Regions from separate parts of the Homo sapiens genome. Here regions 1 and 3 are each linked to region 2. The links come from fine-mapping of genetic effects on gene expression. A gene starts in region 2. Each other region holds a variant in brackets. All regions are shown on one strand. Distances are between the middles of the regions. Region 1 overlaps EXD1 (exonuclease 3'-5' domain containing 1). Region 2 holds the start of NDUFAF1 (NADH:ubiquinone oxidoreductase complex assembly factor 1). Region 3 overlaps DNAJC17 (DnaJ heat shock protein family (Hsp40) member C17).

Evidence for each region. PIP is the estimated chance that this variant, and not a neighbour inherited with it, causes the effect.
Region 1: its variant is the best candidate, but not a certain one, in a credible set for the expression of NDUFAF1 in ileum (GTEx, PIP 0.56).
Region 3: its variant is the best candidate, but not a certain one, in a credible set for the expression of NDUFAF1 in neutrophils (BLUEPRINT, PIP 0.57).

What each region holds. Positions count from the first base shown.
Region 1 is chr15:41,213,339-41,218,338 of GRCh38, reverse strand. EXD1 (exonuclease 3'-5' domain containing 1) reads left to right here. Exons shown (of 12, transcript NM_001286441.2): 4 at 1,185-1,242; 5 at 1,544-1,671; 6 at 2,506-2,564. Among named protein-coding and RNA genes, the nearest start is that of EXD1, 15 kb to the left of the region's middle. The variant C/T (reference allele first, on the strand shown) is at 2,018.
Region 2 is chr15:41,398,838-41,405,487 of GRCh38, reverse strand. It overlaps NDUFAF1 (NADH:ubiquinone oxidoreductase complex assembly factor 1), which reads left to right and starts at 2,992. Exons shown (of 5, transcript NM_016013.4): 1 at 2,992-3,344.
Region 3 is chr15:40,777,781-40,784,430 of GRCh38, reverse strand. DNAJC17 (DnaJ heat shock protein family (Hsp40) member C17) reads left to right here. Exons shown (of 11, transcript NM_018163.3): 2 at 4,434-4,503; 3 at 4,828-4,886; 4 at 5,121-5,208. Among named protein-coding and RNA genes, the nearest start is that of C15orf62, 11 kb to the right of the region's middle. The variant C/T (reference allele first, on the strand shown) is at 3,479.

The sequences.
Region 1 (5,000 bases), 190 kb after region 2:
ATTTTTTTGTATTTTTAGTAGAAACGGGGTTTCACCATGTTGTCTAGGTTGGTCTCAAACTCCTGACCTCAAATGATTCACCCCCCTCACCCTCCCAAAGTGCTGGGATTACAGGCGTGAGCCACTGCACCCAGCCCAATTGTTGTATTTTTTTAGTAGAGACACAGGGTTTCGCCATGTTGGCCAGGCTGGTCTCGAACTCCTGACCTCAGGTGATCTGCCTGCCTCAGCTTCCCAGAGTGCTGGGATTATAGGCTTTGCTCATAATTTTTAAGCTCAAAGGATAGTCATTTCTGTCTTTGTCCTGTGGCCCAATCAACCATGGAGGAGTTGTCCCCAAAAGTACCTTGGATAAGAATTGTCAAGATGAAGGATAATAATGGCTAATCAGCATTTTTCAGTCAATTTTACCTTTTCTCTGCTCCAGATTCAATACTTCTAGATAGTACAGAGAAAAGAGACTTTTGAAACATAGAGGCTTTTTGCTTGAAAAGTACCTAAACGAGGCCAGATGTGGTGGCTCACGCCTGTAATCCCAGCACTTAGGGAGGCTGAGGCGAGCGGATCAAGAGGTCAAGAGATTGAGACCAGCCTGGCCACAATGGTGAAACCCCGTCTCTACTAAAAATACAAAAGTTAGCTGTGTGTGGTGGCGCATGCCTGTAGTCCCAGGCATGGGACTTGGGAGGCTGAGGCAGGAGTATCACCTGAACCTGGGAGGCGGAGGTTACAGTGAGCTGAGGTCGCACCTCTGCACTCCAGCCTAGGCAACAGTGCGAGACTTCATCTCAAAAAAAAAAAAAAAAAAAGGAAAACCCTCAAACAGCACCCATGTGAAGGAAGGTGCATTAGGATTGGGATGGTGGGAAAGAAATCTCTAGAACTAACTTGAATGACCACAAAGGTACCCTAGAACAAAAAGGGTGAAGGGGATGTATAGAAATGTTCCTAATCCTTCTAAATAACCAAGAAGCTTTGTAGGGATAGAATACTGAGAGTCTTTGGTACTTTAGATGGTCTCTTCTGTTGTATTTATTGCTGGCCAGTAAAAGCCTCCGTGGACTAACATGTCATTTCCAATTATTGTTTGCAGTACATGGTTAAACTAGGGGTGTGTGGGTAGTGGAGTAGTTAATTGATTTCTGATTGGAAACTCTGTTGGAAGCCATTTGGTTATTTTACAGTGGAACTACTAGATGAAGTGGAACAAGGCTCAGTGAGAGCAAAAGCATCTTCTGTTAGGTAAGAAGGAATAATTTTCTTAATTATGATATTTTCCAAATGTGCACATTAGGGTAGAAAGCCTTAACTCTAATTCACCAGCTGCTTAATTCCTTGGCATAAGGAAATAGAAATGAGAAGAAATATATAGGTGTTTTCTTCCATTGTTAGATAGCGCCCTCAAGTCAATGTAAGCAGTGGATGAATGGGTCCTCTAGTTAATGAAGGACCACTGTCCTTAACGTTAATGTGTGGCAAAATCTGTTTTTGGTGTCAACAACAAAGAACAAGTTCACCCAAATATTGTTTCTTGTAAGGATAGTCTACATGCAGAAAGAACCTGGATGGAGAAAATGAAAGTTGAAGACCTAAATGTATGTGAGCCTGCTTCTCCTGCCCCTGAAGCACCAGCTACCTCTCTGCTGAATGACCTCAAGTACAGCCCATCAGGTGAATATAGGGGCTCTGAATTTTCTTTTTTTTTTTGAGATGGAGTTTCGCTCTTGTTGCCCAGGCTGCAGTGCAATGGCGTGATCTCGGCTCACTGCAACCTCCACCTCCTGGATTCAAGCAATTATCCTGCCTCTGCCTCCATAGTAGCTGTGATTACAGGCATGTGCCACCACGCCCAGCTAATTTTGTATTTTTAGTAGAGACGGGGTTTCTCCATGTTGATCAGGCTAGTCTCGAACTCCCGACCTCAGGTGATCCGCCCGCCTTGGCCTCCTAAAGTGTTGTGATTAAAGGCATGAGCCACTGTGCCCAGCCGAGGCTCTGAATTTTCTAGGCTCTCTCT[C/T]TCTTTTTTTTTTTTTTAACCAGGTCAGTCAAATTCAACTAGGCTCTCTTTACTGTTTAGAGTTGATGTAACCCTGAATCAAGATTCTCTATGGAATCCTAAGCTGAGCCATTGCTTCTGGGTTCTGAATTAAGATAAAATATTGTGATTCATTTGTTTATTTAATAACTGAGTACATACTGTGTGTGTACTCATAATTATTGGGGTACACTTATTCATTGGGGATTCTGAAATATGGTATCCCTCCCCTTACTGAGCAGCAAACAGATGCTAAATTAGATAAATAAGTAAAATATATACTGTAATAGTGCCAAATGCTAAGGAGGAAAAAAAAGGAAGAGAAGTAGTACGTAGGGAGGGTGGTTTTGCAATTTTAGGGTATTTGAGTTGCAATACAGTAGGAATATATGAGTGTGGCCAAAATTATTGAGAAAGCTATTCTGTTGCTGAGGAAGAGAAATATATCTAATGCAATCCTTGTCTTGTAGAGGAAGAGGAGGTGACATACACAGTCATTAATCAATTCCAGCAGAAGTTTGGTGCTGCGGTAAGTATTGTCCTCAATCATTACTAGTATTGCCTGTATGTAGGTATCATGTCTGTGTGTCATAAATTTCTTTCTTTCTTTTTTTTTTTGAGACGGAGTCTTGCTCTATCGCCCAGGTTGGAGTGCAGTGGACCAATCTTGGCTCACTGCAAGCTCCGCCTCCCAGGTTCACACCCTTCTCCTGCCTCAGCCTCCCGTGTAGCTGGGACTACAGGTGCCCGCCACCACGCCTGGCTAATTTTTTGTATTTTTAGTAAAGACAGTGTTTCACCGTGTTAGCCAGGATGGTCTCGATCTCCTGACCTCGTGATCCACCCGCCTCGGCCTCCCAAAGTGCTGGGATTACAGGCATGAGCCACCACGCTCGGCTGTAAATTTCTTTATTATAAGATTTTTGATTTTTTTTCCTATTAATTCAACAACATATTTGGTGGCTGCTATATGCCTATATGCCAGGCACTGTTCTGAGCTCTTGGGTAAAACCATAATCAAGACAAAGTTCCCGCCCTCAAGGAGCTTATATTCTAATGCAAGACAATAAACAAGTGCTTTTATTTTAGATGGCAGTAAGTGCTGGGAATAAAAATAAAGCATGGTATGGGGACTAGAGTGACAAGGAGGTCCTATTTTATGTGGGATAGACAGAGAAAACATCTCTAGGGAGGTGACATTAGAACAAAGACCTGAGTAAGTAAGGGAGCCATGTAGATATCAAAGTGGAGAACTTAAAGGCTGGGTGCAGTGGCTCACGCCTGTAATCCCAGCACTTTGGGAGGCTGAGGCGGGTGGATCACGAGGTCAGGAGATTGAGACCATCCTGGCTAACACGGTGAAAACCCGTCTCTACTAAAAATACAAAAAAATAGCCGGGCATGCTGGCAGGCGCCTGTAGTCCCAGCTACTCACCAGGCTGGGTCAGGAGAATGGTGTGAACTCGGGAGGCGGAGCTTGCAGTGAGCCGAGATCGTGCCACTGCACTCCAGCCTGGGTGACAGAGCGAGACTCCATCTCAAAAAAAAAAAAGTGAAGAACTTAAAAGTGGAATTAGCAAGTGCAAAGGCCCTGAGGCTGAAATATTCCTGGCTTGTGTGGAGGAACAGCAGGGAGGTCAGTGTGACAGGACCACAGTGAAGAAGAATGGTAGGAGATGGAAGGGGGCAGGAGGCAGTTCACTTAGGGCTTTCTAGACATTGTAAAGATTTTGAGTTTGACTTAAAGCCATTGGCAGTTTCAGAGAAGAGTCAGAATTTTTTTTTTTTTTTGAGATGGAGTCTCGCCTTGTGGCCCAGGCTGGAGTTCGGTGGGGTGATCTTGGCTCACCTCAACCTCCGCCTCCTGGGTTCAAGCGATTCTCCTGGCTCAGCCTCCTGAGTAGCTGGTATTACAGGCATGCACCACCACGCCAGCTAATTTTTGTATTTTTAGTAGTAGAGATGGGGTTTTGCCATGTTGGCCAGGCTGGTCTCAAACTCCTGACCTCAGGTGATCTGCCTATCTCCGCCTCCCAAAGTGCTGGGATTACAGGTGTAAGCCACTGTCCCTGGCCCATGGATGCATTTTTAAAAGGACAGTTAGCTATCAAAAGGTTTTTGTTTTGTTTTGTTTTGTTTTTGAGATGGAGTCTCTTTCGCCCAGGCTGGAGTGCAGTGGCACTATCTCGGCTCACTGCAAGCTCCACCTCCCGGGTTCACGCCATTCTCCTGCCTCAGCCTCCCGAGTAGCTGGGACTACAGGCGCCTGCCACTGCACCCGGCTAATTTTTTGTATTTTTAGTAGAGACGGGGTTTCACCGTGTTAGCCAGGATGGTCAACAACAGGTTGTTTTTTAAGTCTGAACTGAACAGAAGATTTTTATTAAAAAATAGCATTATTGAGATATAATCCACATGCCATACAATTTATTTAGTTAAAATGTACAGCTCATTTTCTTTTAGTGTAGTCACAGAGTTGTAAGTAAAGCAACATAATAAATTTTAGAATATTTTCAGTATACCAGAAAGAAACCCCACACCCCTTATCCATCACTCCTAATCACTCCTCAGCCCTTGGCAACCACTAAAACAGCCTGACCAACATGGCAAAACCCCATCTCTACTAAAAATACAAAAATTAGCCAGGTGTGGTGGTGGGCACTTGTAATCCCAGTTACTGGGGAGGCTGAGTGGGAGGAGGTGGAGGGTACAGTGAGCCGAGATCATGCCACTATACTCCAGCCTGGGAAAGAGTGAGACTCTGTCTCAAAAAACAACAAAACAAAACAAAACAAAACAAAAACTGGCTGGACACGGTGGCTCATGCCTGTAATCCCAGCACTTTGCGAGGCCGAGATGGGTGAATCACAAGGTCAGGAGTTTGAGACCAGCCCGACCAACATGGTGAACACCGTCTCTACTAAAAATACAAAAATTAGCTGGGTGTGGTGGTGCGTGTCTGTAA
Region 2 (6,650 bases):
GCTGGGATTACGGGTGCTCGCCACCACCCCTGGCTAATTTTTGTATTTTTAGTAGAGACAGGGTTTTACCATGTTGGCCAGGCTGGTCTCGAACTCCTGATCTCAGGTGATTCACCCGACTAGGCCTCCCAAAGTGCTGGCATTACAGGTGTGAGCTACCCTGCCTGGCTGGGTTTCAGTTTTGTTGTGAACAAAGGTATAGTTAAGATTTGGTGGAGCCCACTACCACTGTCTGGGAGGCCAAGGAAGAAGGTGCTACAGACATGGTTGGGTTAACCTACATAATCATTTCCCCTCAGCTCTTTGCCTTTATTTCCTTCCTTTATTTCCTATATTTCCTTCCCCTAGTGACTCTACCTTTTCTTCTGCCTGGCATTGTCATGTCCTTCCTTTCTATTTGAATATTTTTTTCTTTCTTCCAGCCTTCCTTTCTCCACTGGTAATAAATACATATGGGGCTTCCTATACTTAAGCAAACAGCCTGGCACAGTGGCTCACGCCTGTAATCCCAGCACCTTGGATGGCCGAGGTGGGTGGATCAACTGAGGTCAGGAGTTGGAGACCAGCCTGGCCAACATGACGAAACCCTGACTCTGCTAAAAATACAATAATCAGCTGGGTGTGGTGGCATGCACCTCTAATCCCAGCTACTCAGGAGGCTGAGGCAGGAGAATCACTTGAACCCGGGAGGCGGGGGTTGCAGTGAGCCGAGATCACGCCACTGCACTCCAGCCTGGGTGAGGAAGACTGTGGTTCAAAAAAAAAAAAGCAGCAAACAACTAATGATTAGAGACATGCAAATCAAAACCAAAATGAGATACCACTTCACACTCATTAGGATGGCTACTATATTTTAAAAACCAAAAAAACAAGAAACGTGTCAGTGGGCTTGGAAAGAAGGTGTGAAAAGATCAAAGATCAAAAACAGCAAGAGAATGCAACAGGATTTAAAATCAGTAAGAGAAGATTTTAAGGAGAGGAGCCAAGGACAGTCAAGCATTTCCATCCTAGAAGGATGTGGCCATTTACAGAAATAGGGAGACAGGAGGAATTAGTAGGAGGAAAAATGACACATTTAGTTTTAGACATTTAGTTTTCTTTATTGCTCAAGGATATTTCCTAAAAAACAACAACAAAAAGACATTTCGATTTTTTCTTTTTCTGAGACGGAGTCTGGCTCTGTGGCCCAGGCTGGAGTGCAGTGGTGCGATCTCGGCTCACTGCAAGCTCCGTCTCCCGGGTTCACGCCATTCTCCTGCCTCAGTCTCCTGAGTAGCTGGGACTACAGGCGCCCGCCAGCACGCCCGGCCAATTTTTTTGTATTTTTAGTAGAGACGGGGTTTCACCGTGTTAGCCAGGATGGTCTCGATCTCCTGACCTTGTGATCCGCCCGCCTCGGCCTCCCAAAGTGCTGGGATTACAGGCGTGAACCACCGCGCCCGGCCGATAACTTATATTTGAAACTAGAAAAGAGGTAGAGGCAGGATGGGCCATGGAGAGACAGCCCGCATTAAAGGTTGTGGGAAGAGAATAGAAGAGTCAGTGATGGGGGCAGAAAGGTAAGGTTTGAGGGGGCAAGTGTAGAGTCTAGAGAAGCCAAGCCGAATTTGAGGAAGAGGAGGCGGCGCGGAAACTAGTGAAGGAGAAAACATGGAAAGGGCTAGTGTATTTAGTGAGCTCCTTCGGAACCTTAGAGAACAAAGGTGTTACGGAACTATATGCTCTCAAATTCACACTAAGCACTAAATTCCCGCCGCTATGGTACATTCTGGGGAAAGGAAAAACAGCGCAGTCTGGACCCAAGAAAGCTCACAGCGTGGCAAAGGAAGTGAGAAGTGAGTGAAAGATACAATGTTGATTCTGTCTTCCCTGGCAGTAAGAAAAAAAAACAAAAACAAACAATGTTTAAGTGCTTTGGCCGGGCATGGTGGCTCACGCCTGTAATACCAGCACTTTGGGAGGCCGAGGTGGGTGGATCATGAGGTCAGGATTTCGAGACCAGCCTGGCCAACATGGCGAAACCCCATCTCTACTAAAAATACAAAAATTATCCGGGTGTGGTGGCACACACCTGTAATCCCAGCTACTTGGGAGGCTGAGGCAGGAGAATTGCTCCAACCCAGGAGTCGGAGGTTGCAGATCGCGCCACTGCACTACAGCCTGGGCAACAGAGTGAGACTCCGTCTCAAAAAAAAAAAGTGCTTTAAGAGAGGTGTGCACAAGGTACAAACAGATGCCCTGAGCAACTGGCGACCGTGTGGGGCGAGACTCGGGAAGGGCTGGTAGGAGGGGCTGCTGTCCAGGTGCGTGGTGGTCCTCAAGAATTCATGGGGGCAATTCCAGCAGAATCGGCCTTTTGAGGCCTCAGGCAGTTCTTGTGGGGACCGAGGCGACAGATAAGGAAGGAAGGGATACAGGCGCGTTAGCAATAACTGGGTTCTATTTGAAAGACGCAGGGGGCCGGGCTTGGTGGCTCGCGCCTGTAATCTCAGCACTTTGGGAGGCCGAGGCGGGTGGATCACGAGGTCAGGAGATCGAGATCATCCCGGCTAACATGGTGAAACCCCGTCTCTACTAAAAATACAAAAATTAGTCGGGCATGATGGCGCGCACCTGTAATCCCAGCTACTCGGGAGGCTGAGGCAGGAGAATCGCTTGAATCTGGGAGGCAGAGGTTGTAGTGAGCCGAGATCGCGCCACTGCACTCCAGCCTGGGCGACAGAGCGAGAATCCGTCTCAAAAAAAAAAAAAAAAAAAAAGACGCAGGGATGGAGTTTGCCGCCTGAAAGGATACAGGAAGGAGAGGCGAAAAACTTATCTGAATTCTCACTGCTTCCTTACAACTGGCGACCAAGTGGACCAAAAACCTCCAAAAACCTCAGTTGGCTGGGCTACGGGGTCCTTGCTGTCCTTCCTGGGCTTCTGTACTCGGCCGGAACTTTGGTGTTCTGACGCCTTGTTTGGCATCGGAAGGGAAAAGCAGATGGACCTATACGGGTAAAGTGGCTTCTGGGCGGAAGGTACACTATAGGCTCGGGGAGGTAAGCGGCGGCAGGCCGGCGGTTGGTGTGTCCCGGGTGTGGGGAGGCGACAGAGCCCTGGCACTTGAGGGTTGAGGGGGCCTCCCCAGCGCGGCGAACCGTCTAGCCTCCGGAGGCCAGGCCGTGAGTGCGGGAGGTATACGCCAAGGCGGAAGAATTTTGCCACTCACTACCTGTGTGACCTCGGGTAAATTAGCCTTGGAACGTCAGTTTCTTCGTCTCTATAATTGAAATAATAATAGTACCTCTCTCAGGATTGTTGTGAGCCGTCAGTGAAACACTTAGAGCAGTTTCTGGCACATGGTAAGGCATGGATAGCTTTACTAATTCTACTCACTTCTAGCTGCGTGGATTGTGTTGTCAAAACCCACCGTCAACCTCAGGGCGGTATTGTCCAGTTAATAGTTTAGATTTTCTGTTTACTGGTAGAAAAAAAAAAATGAAACAAAGCATTTATAATTAAAGTTATATTATTAGAGAAGTAACACTACGGAGGGTTTGGAAAACATTTTATGAGCTATCATTTGTTTCTCAAATTTCGGTATGTGTAGAGGTAAAATCATTTAAGTGCAACCGGCGCGGGGGAATTTAAATATTATCCATAATTCCGGGACCTCAGATCAACTGTTAATTTTTCCTGGTTCCCTTAACGTTTATAATACATGTGAAAACATACTGTTTACATGGTTTTGATTTATCAACAAACCTTATTGATAATGTCGGCTGGGCGCGGTGGCTCACGCCTGTAATCCCAGCACTTTGGGAGGCCGAGGCGGGCGGATCACTTGAGGTCAGGAGTTCGAGACCAGCCTGGCCAACATGGTGAAACCCTGTCTCTACTAAAAATACAAAAATTAGCTGGGCGTGGTGGCGCACGCCTGTAATCCCAGTGACTGAGGCAAGAGAATTGCTTGAAACCAGGAGGTGGAGGTTACAATGAGCCGAGATCGCACAACTGCACTCCAACTTGGGGGACAGAGCTGGACTCTGTCTTAAAAAAAAAAAAAAAAAAGTTGGGCATGGTGGCGGGCACCTGTAATTTCAGCCACTCGGGAGGCAGAGGCAGGAGAAGCACTTGAACCCGGGAGGCGGAGGTTGCAGTGAGCCAGGGTCGTGCCATTGCACTCCAGCCTGGGTGACAGAGCGAGACTCCATCTCAAAAAAAAAAAAAAAAAAAAAGGTTGGGCGCCGTGGCTGACGCCTGTAATCCCAGTACTTTAGGAGGCCCATGTAGGCGGATCACCTGAGGTCAGGAGTTCGAGACCACTCTGGCCAACATAGTGGAACCTCATCTCTACTGAAAAAACAAAAACAAAAACAAAAATTAGCCGGGCATGGTGGCGCCCGCCTGTAATCCCAGCTATTCAGGAGGCTGAGACAAGAGAATCGCTTGAACCCAGGAGGCGGAGATTGCAGTGAGCGGAGATCTCTAGCCTGGTGACAGAGCAAGACTCCGTCTCAAAAAAAAAAAAAAGTATTGATAATGTCATTTTACCTATTGGTGTCTGTATCCTACAGAAAGGAAATACGTATCTGACTTGTTTCATAGGATTTGTGTGTGGATGGCATGAGATAATATATATCAGGGTGATATGAAAGTGTTAGGAGTAGGCTGGGCATGGTGGCTCACACCTGTAATCACAGTACTTTGGGAGAACAAGGCAGGTGGATCACGTGGTCAGGAGATCGAGACCATCCTGGCTAACACGGTGAAACCCTGTCTCTATTAAAAATCCAAAAAAAAAAAAAAAAAAAAAATAGCTGGGCATGGTGGCGGGCGCCTGTAGTCCCAGCTACTCGCGAGGCTGAGGCAGGAGAATGGCGTGAACCCGGGAGGCGGAGCTTGCAGTGAGCCGAGATCGTGCCACTGCACTCCAGCCTGGGTGACAGAGTGAGACTCTGTCTCAAAAAAGAAAAAAAAAAGTATTAGGAGTGGTATTCATCAGGTGCAGTGGCTCACGCCTGTAATCCCAGGTACTCCAGAGGCTGAGGCAGGAGGATCACTTGAACCCAGGAGTTAGAGACTCGTCTGAGCAACATAACAAGACCTCATCTCTATTTTTTTTTTTTTTTTTTTGAGATGGAATTTTGCTCTTGTTGCCCAGGCTGGAGTGCAATGGCGTGATCTTGGCTCACCACAACCTCCACCTCCTGTTCAAGCTATTCTCCTGCCTTAGCCTCCCAAGTAGCTGGGACTACAGTTGTGCGCCACCACACCGGGCTAATTTTGTATTTTTAGTAGAGATGGGGTTTCTTCATGTTGGTCAGGCTGGCCTCAAACTCCTGACCTTGTCATCCACCCACCTTGGCCTCCCAAAGTGCTGGGATTACAGGCGTGAGCCACTGCGCCTGGCCTTACAATTTTTTATTTTTATTTATTTATTTTTTAGACAGAGTCCTGCTCTGTTGCCCAAGCTGGAGTGCAGTGGCTTGATCTTGGCTCACTGCAGCGTCCCACTCCTGGGTTCAAGCGATTTTCCTGCTTCAGCCTCCCGAGTAGCTGGGATTATAGGTGCTTGCCACCACCCTATAGGTGCCCGTCACCACACCCAGCTAATTTTTGTATTTTTTTTTTTTTTTTTTTTTTTTTTGAGAAGGAGTCTCGCTCTGTCGCCCAGGCTGGAGTGCAGTGGCGGGATCTCGGCTCACTGCAAGCTCCGCCTCCCGGGTTCACGCCATTCTCCTGCCTCAGCCTCCCGAGTAGCTGGGACTACAGGCGCCCGCCACTACGCCCGGCTAATTTTTTGTATTTTTTTAGTAGAGACGGGGTTTCACCGTTTTAGCCGGGATGGTCTCGATCTCCTGACCTCGTGATCCGCCCGCCTCCGCCTCCCAAAGTGCTGGGATTACAGGCGTGAGCCACCGCGCCCGGCCTGTATTTTTTTTTTTGAGACAGAGTTTCACTTTTGTTGCCCAGGCTGGAGTGCGATGGTGCAGTCTTGGCTCATTGCAGCCTCTGCCTCCCAGGTTCAAGCGATTCTCCTGCCTCAGCCTCCCGAGTAGCTGGGATTACAGGTGCCCACCACCATGCCCAGCTAATTTTTTTTTTTTTTTAGTTGGAGTCACTCTGTCGCCCAGGCTGGAGTGCAATGGCACGATCTCGGCTCACTGCAACGTCTGCCTCCTGGGTTCAAGCGATTCTTATGCCTAGGCCTCCCAAGTAGCTGGGATTACAGGCATGGGCCACCACACCTGGCTAATTGTTTGTATTTTCTGTAGGGGTTTCACCATGTTGGTTAGGCTGGTCTTGAACTCCTGTCCTAGGTGATCCGCCTGCCCTGGCCTCCCGAAGTGTTGGGATTACAGGCATGAGCCACCGTGCCAGGCCAATTTTTGTATTTTTAATGGAGACGGGGTTTTACCATGTTGGGCAGGCTGGTCTCCAACTCCTGACGACAAGTCATTTGCCTGCCTAAGACTCCCAGAGTGCTGGGATTACAGGTGTGAGCCACTGTGGCGGGCTACAATTTTTGGTTTTTTTATTTTTTTTGAGATGGAATTTCACTTTTGTCACCCAGGCTGGAGTGCAGTGGTGCAATCTCGGCTCACTTGCAACCTCCGCCTCCTGGGTTCAAGTGATTCTCCTGCCTCAGCCTCCCCAGTAGCTGG
Region 3 (6,650 bases), 620 kb after region 2:
AGCTTGAATAATTTTATTTTCCTATTACAGTGAAAAACCAAAATTCCAATATAGAACATTCAAAATAAATTATGAAACACAAAAGAATATTTATCATTCCCTTAGAATAAAATTCAGAAAGCATTCTCTCAAAAAAAGGAAAGAAAATGAAGGAGATGCCACTGCTGGACACCCCTTCTGTCTTGCTTTCTTACTGCTCCTTCTTTTTTTTTTTGAGACAGAATTTTATTTTTGTCGCCCAGGCTGGAGTGCAGTGGTGCAATCTCGGCTCACTGCAACCTCCGCCTCCCAGGTTCCTGCCTCAGCCTCCCTAGTAGCTGGGACTACAGGCGTGTGCCACCACGCCCAGCTAATTTTTGTATTTTTGGTAGAGACGGGGTTTTACCACGTTGGCCAGGCTGGTCTCGAATTCCTGACCTCAACTGATTCGCCCGCCTCAGCCTCCCAAAATGCTGGGATTACAGGCGTGAGCCACCACACCCAGCCTGCTCCTTCTTCTTCACACTCACTTCTACTCCCCCTCTCAGATTTATAACAAGGAACATACAAACTTTTATTTTATTTTTTTGAGACAGAGCCTTACTCTGTCACCCAGGCTGGGGTACAGTGACACGATCTCAGCTCACTGAAGCCTCTGCCCCCCGGAATCAAGTGATTCTTCTGCCTCAGCTTCCCCCATAGCTGAGATTACAAGCATGCACCACCACACCCGGCTAATTTTTATATTTTTAGTAGATACAAGTTTCACCATGTTGGCCAGGCTGGTCTCAAACTCCAGACCTCAAGTGATCCACCCACCTCGGCCTCCCACAGCGATGGGATTAGAGGTGTGAGCCACCATGCCCAGCCTAAACCACTTTAAAAGAGCCCCATGATACAAAAGAAAACATCTTCCACAAAACCCCCCTACATCCCTGGGGCAAGCCTACTAGTCCTAGTCCTGAGGAAGTTCATCTTGAAGGTAGTGTTGCAGGTGATGCCATAGATACTGGGACATGGACCGCCTCCCCCTCCCTTCCTCTCACCCATCCCAGAGAGAGGGTGGAGATAGGATCAGAGAGGAGGGGCCCAGAGGCCAGGAACAAACACCCAACAGACTCCTGTCAGTGTGTGTAGGTGCTTTTATATGTGTTAATGAACCTTGATGTCAGAGGGCTGGGGAGATTGAGAAAGAACATCTTTATAATGTTTTTGGTATTGTTTTACTTATTGAAAAAAAGCAAACAGGGGCCCTGAAATATAAAATATGTTCAGTAAAGGAATGAGGCTGGAGGCACAATAAAGCAGGCAAAGAGAGCAAAAGAAAGAAAAGACGAATGATAAGGGACCTAAAAAGTAAAGATGATATATTGCAAAGATGACACTGTCTTAAGCTAGCACCTCCTTTCCCTTAATATTGTTCTTTTTTGTAGTGAAAACAGAGCTAGGCAGGGAGGGTTAGGGTGGGAGGTGAGCAGGCAGGGCAGATGTGCTTCGGTGGGCGATTGGGAAGGCAGGTGGCACGTCTACACCCTCTCTGCCCAGCGCCTGTCCTGGGTGGTTCCTGCTGCCTCCAAGGCAGTCAGGAGAACCAAACAGCTTGGGCTGCCATGGCAGGTGCCCTGGCTATGGCCCAGCAGGTGGCAGCACACCCCTAGAGGTCCTGGGCCCGGTGGCTGCCTCATGGATGGAGGAGTTGCCCAGCAGGTGCTCACCTTGTGGATGCTGGCTGCTTACCTCTGAAAGTCCTTATTTAGCACACTTGGGTGTAGAAGCGTTTCTTGCGTCCATCTTGGAAGCTTAGAAATCCAATCTGCTTAGCTCTTCCTCCAGGAGGTTTGAGCAGCAGGTAACACACACCAAGCAGAAGGGAGAAAGCAAAGGCCTTGGAGGCAGAGGACGGATTCTGGGGTTGTGTACACTGTCTTCACTTACAACAGCTATTAGGTAGCACACGAAAGAGAATCTTGGTAGCTGTGTTTATTTTTACTTATGTAAGAAATATTGGGGTTTCTTTCTTTCTATGTATTTAAGAGAGAGTCTTGCTCTGTCACCCAGGCTGGAGTGCAGTGGCATCATCATAGCTCACGGCAGCCTCAAAATCCTTGGCTGAGGTGATCCTCCCTCCTCAACCTCCTTAGTAGCTGGTACTGCAGGCACGCACCACTATGCCTGGCTAATTTTTTATTTTATTTTAATTTAATTTAAAATTTTTTTATTTTTATTTTTGAGACAAGGTCTCACTCTGTCACCTAGGCTGAAATGCAGTGGTGTGAACATGCTCACTACAGCTTCAACCTCCCGGGCTCCAGTGATCCTCCCACCTCAGCCTCCTGAGTAGGGGGACAAAGGCACATGCTACCACACCTGGCTCATGTTTAAAAAATTTTTGTAGAGATGAGGTCTTGCCATGTTGCCCAGGCTTGGCTGGAACTCCTGGGCTCAAGCGATCCTCTCGCCTCAACCGCCTGAGTAGCTGGGACTACAGGCATGCACCACCACACCTGACAAAAAAAAATTTTTTTTTTTTGAGACAGAGTCTCATTCTGTCTCCCAGGCTGCAGTGCAATGGTGTGATCTCGGCTCACTGCAACCTCTGCCTCCCAGGTTCAAGCGATTCTCCTGCCTCAGCCTCTCGAGTAGCTGGGACTACAGGCGCCCGCCACCATGCCTGGCTAATTTTTTTGTATTTTTAGTAGAGACGGGGTTTCACCGTGTTAGCCGGGATGGTCTCAATCTCCTGACCTCGTGATCCACCTGTCTCGGCCTCCCAAAGTGCTGGGATTACAGGCTTGAGCCACCGCACCTGGACTAAACTCAAAAGTTTATAATAAGATCTATGTCAGAACATGGATACCTCTGTCTACTATAATATTTTATTTAAAAAAAATTTTAATAAGCGTGGCAAATTCCTGAACAAACTTTTTGAAATTTATTTTTTATTATTTTTTTGAGACAAGGTCTCCCTCTGTCACTCAGGCTAGAGTACAATGGCATGATCTCGGCTCACTGCAACCTCCGCCTCTGGGGCTCAAGTGATTCTCCTGCCTCAGCCTCCCAAGTAGCTGGGTCTACAGGTGCACGCCACCATGCCCGGCTAATTTTTGTATTTTTAATAGAGACAGGGTTTTGCTTTGTTGGCGAGGCTGGTCTCGAACTCCTGACCTCAAGTGATCTGCCCACCTCAGCCTCCCAAAGTGCCAGGATTACAGGCATGAGGATTACAGGATTACATGCCAGGATTACAGGATTACACCATGTCTGGCCAATCATAATCTTTTTTTTTTTTTTTTTTTTTCTGAGATGGAGTCTCGCTCTTGTCCCACAGGCTGGAGTGTAGTGGCACAATCTTGGCTCACTGCAACCTCTGCCTCCTGCATGAATCAAGCGATTCTCATGCCTCAGCCTCCCAAGTAGGGGGATTACAGGGGAATATGTCATCACACCCAGCTAATTTTTGTATTTTTAGTAGAGATGGGGTTTCGCCATGTTGGCCAGG[C/T]TGGTCTCCTACTCCTGACCTCAAGTGATCCACCCGCCTCAGCCTCCCAAAGTGCTGTGATTACAGGCGTGAGCCACCATGTCCGGCCTCAATCATAATCTTTTATTTTATTTTTTATTTTATTTTATTTTATTTTATTTGAGACAGAGTCTTGCTCTGTCGCCAGGCCGGAGTGTAGTGGTGCGATTTCGGCTCACTGCAACCTCCGCCTCCTCGGTTCAAGCGATTCTCCTGCCTCAGCCTCCCAAGTAGCTGGGATTACAGCTGCCCGCCACTATGCCTAGCTAATTTTTGTATATTTAGTAGAGATGGAGTTTCACTATGTTAGTGAGGCTGGTCTCAAACTCCTGACCTCAGGTGATCTGTCCACCTCAGCCTCCCAAAGTGCTGGGATGACAGGCGTGAGCCACCGCACCGGCCAATCATAATCTTTTAAATGAGTCTCCCCGTTGATGGGGATCTTGGCTGGCTAGTATCAACAGTGTTGTAGAGAGCATCCTTGTATATTTATTTTTGCCATACTTCTACAAGTCCAGATTCCTAGGACTTGGGTCAAAGGGAAAGAACATTTTAAATTTTGATGGCTGAATTTTCTTCCAGATAGGTTGCCCCAGTTTATATGCCCACCAAGAATGTGTAGAGTACCTGTCTTCGAGTGGCTGTCGAGAAAGCGGGGTACTGTGCTCCTGCCTGTTGCAGCAGCCCCTGGACATCTGCAGTGGTGAGGTTGAGCACTTAGCAGGAGGTGGGCCCAGCTCCTGTGCTGGGCGACAGTGGCTCACTCCCTCCATGGCCTTGGCCTCCTCCATTGCCAGTCTCCCTGGTGGCTAGGAAGTGGGCGCCAGCAGCTTCTCTTTTAGGTGTGCATGGGATTCCCCTTACCCATTGAGCAAGGTTTTCCTGTTTGTCCCTGGGATGAGAGTGAATGGCCATGTCTTCTGTCTGACTCTTCCAGGTAAAGAAGGCGTATAGGCAGAAGGCCCTCTCCTGCCACCCAGACAAAAATCCAGATAATCCCAGAGCAGGTGAGACTCTTCTCAGGGCGTGGGGAGAAAGAAACCCACTCACCCGGGCATTGTGTTTCCCGATGTAAGCTCTGCATGTGAGTGCTGTGGGGTGTAAGCACACATTGCCTGGCTCCAGGCAATGGGTCCCAGGGCTTCCCTCCTGTGAGGGGTGTCTGGTCAGTTGCTGATATGCTCACCCCTCCTTGTTGGTCTGTCATCTGCTGATGTCGGCTTGTCTGCCATCCTGTGACTTCTTTGAAGATTTTTTTTTTTTTTGAGGGAGCACACCATTACGAAGTCTTAACTTTATTTTTCTTCTGTCTTTTTGATCCTTATGTTTAGCTGAACTCTTCCACCAGCTTTCTCAGGCCTTGGAGGTGCTGACCGATGCTGCAGCCAGGGTAAGCACAGCCTCCTTCATCGGAATCGTCCCCCATGGTTAGAGACCACTGCTGCCTCTCAACCTCGGTCCTCTGCCCTTTGCCATGTGGCACAGTCCTTGCTGTCTAAGCCCAGGAGACCCAGTCACCAGGCTGCCACTCTGATGGCTCGTGGGCTAGGGGCCAGGCAGATTGCCGGGGCTCTGTCTTTACTCTCTCACTGACCCTCTGCCCTGTGCCCCTTTCTCCTGCCAGGCTGCATATGACAAGGTCAGGAAAGCCAAGAAGCAAGCAGCAGAGAGGACCCAGAAACTTGATGAGAAAAGGAAGAAAGTGAAGCTTGGTAGGTGCCATCATAGTGCTCGGTGGCCTGTGGTTTCCTGTGGTCATTTTCATTCATCTCCCTCACCTGAAGCTTCACTTCCAGCAACTCATCTCAAAGCCTTTTGGCTCAGGCTCTGGGCAAAACGCTGTTCTTAGAGGTTGGTTCCTAAAGACACTCTTAGGAATAATAACAATAATAAGGTTTAATATTAGCTAAGCATTGTGACAAATGCCTTATTGTCCCTTTAATTATCATAACTATACAAGGAAGTGTGGGTACTAAACCTTTTTTAAGAACATGGTTTTTTGAGACAGGGTCTCACCCTGTCACCTAGGCTGGAGCGCAGTGGCATGATCTCGGCTCACTGCAACCCCCACCCTCTGGGTTCAGGCGATTCTTGTGCCTCAGCCTCACGATAGTGGGACTACAGGCATGCACCACTACGCCCGGCTAATTTTGTTCCGTTTTTTTAGAGATGGAGTTTCACCATGTTGGCCAGGCTGGTCTTAAACTCCTGGCCTCAAGCTATCCACCTCAGTCTCCCAAAGTGCTGGTATTACAGCTGGTGAGCTGCCGCACCTGGCCTCTGAAGCCATTTTTTATAGGCAAAGGAGCTAAGGCACCAAAAGTTTAAGAGCTTGCTGGAGGTGGGATTTAAACTTATCCAGTGTGAGTAAAATTGGTGCTTGTGGCCGGGCGCGGTGGCTCACGCCTGTAATCCCAGCACTTTGGGAGGCCGAGGCGGGTGGATCACGACGTCAGGAGTTCGAGACCAGCCTGGCCAAGATGGTGAAACCCCTTCTCTACTAAAAATACAAAAATTAGCTGGGTGTGGTGGCGGGTGCCTGTAATCCCAACTACTCGAGAAGTTGAGGCAGAGAATTGCTTGAACCCGGGAGGCAGAGGTTGCAGTGAGCTGAGATCACGCTGCTGTGCTCTAGCCTGGGTGACAGAGCAAAACTCCATCTCAAAAAACAAAACAAAACAAAAAAATTGGTGCTTGTATTCACCATTTCTGGCTGAGTCTTCTTCTTCTTTTTTTTTTTTTTAAAGAAAGACGGGGTTTTGTACTGTCACCCAGGCTAGGGTGGCACCATCATGGCTCACTGCAGCCTCAAACTCCTGGGCTCAAGCAGTCCTTCTGCCTTGGCCTCCTGAGTAGCTGGGACTACAGGTGCGAGCCGCTGTGCCCGGCTGGGTCTTTTAATTTGTTCTAACCCCAATTCCTACCCAGACTTTTCACTTTGAGAAGCTCCCTCAGAAGGATTCAAAGAGGTCCAGGCTTTCTCTTCTCTAATAGCTTTATTGAGGTATTCTTTGTATATCACAACATCAACCCATTTCAAGTGTACACTTCAATGATTTTTCGTAAATTTACTAAATGATGCAACTCTGACTATAAATCAGATTTGGAACATTTTCATCAACCCAATAAGATTGCTGCAAGCATTTTTTTTTTC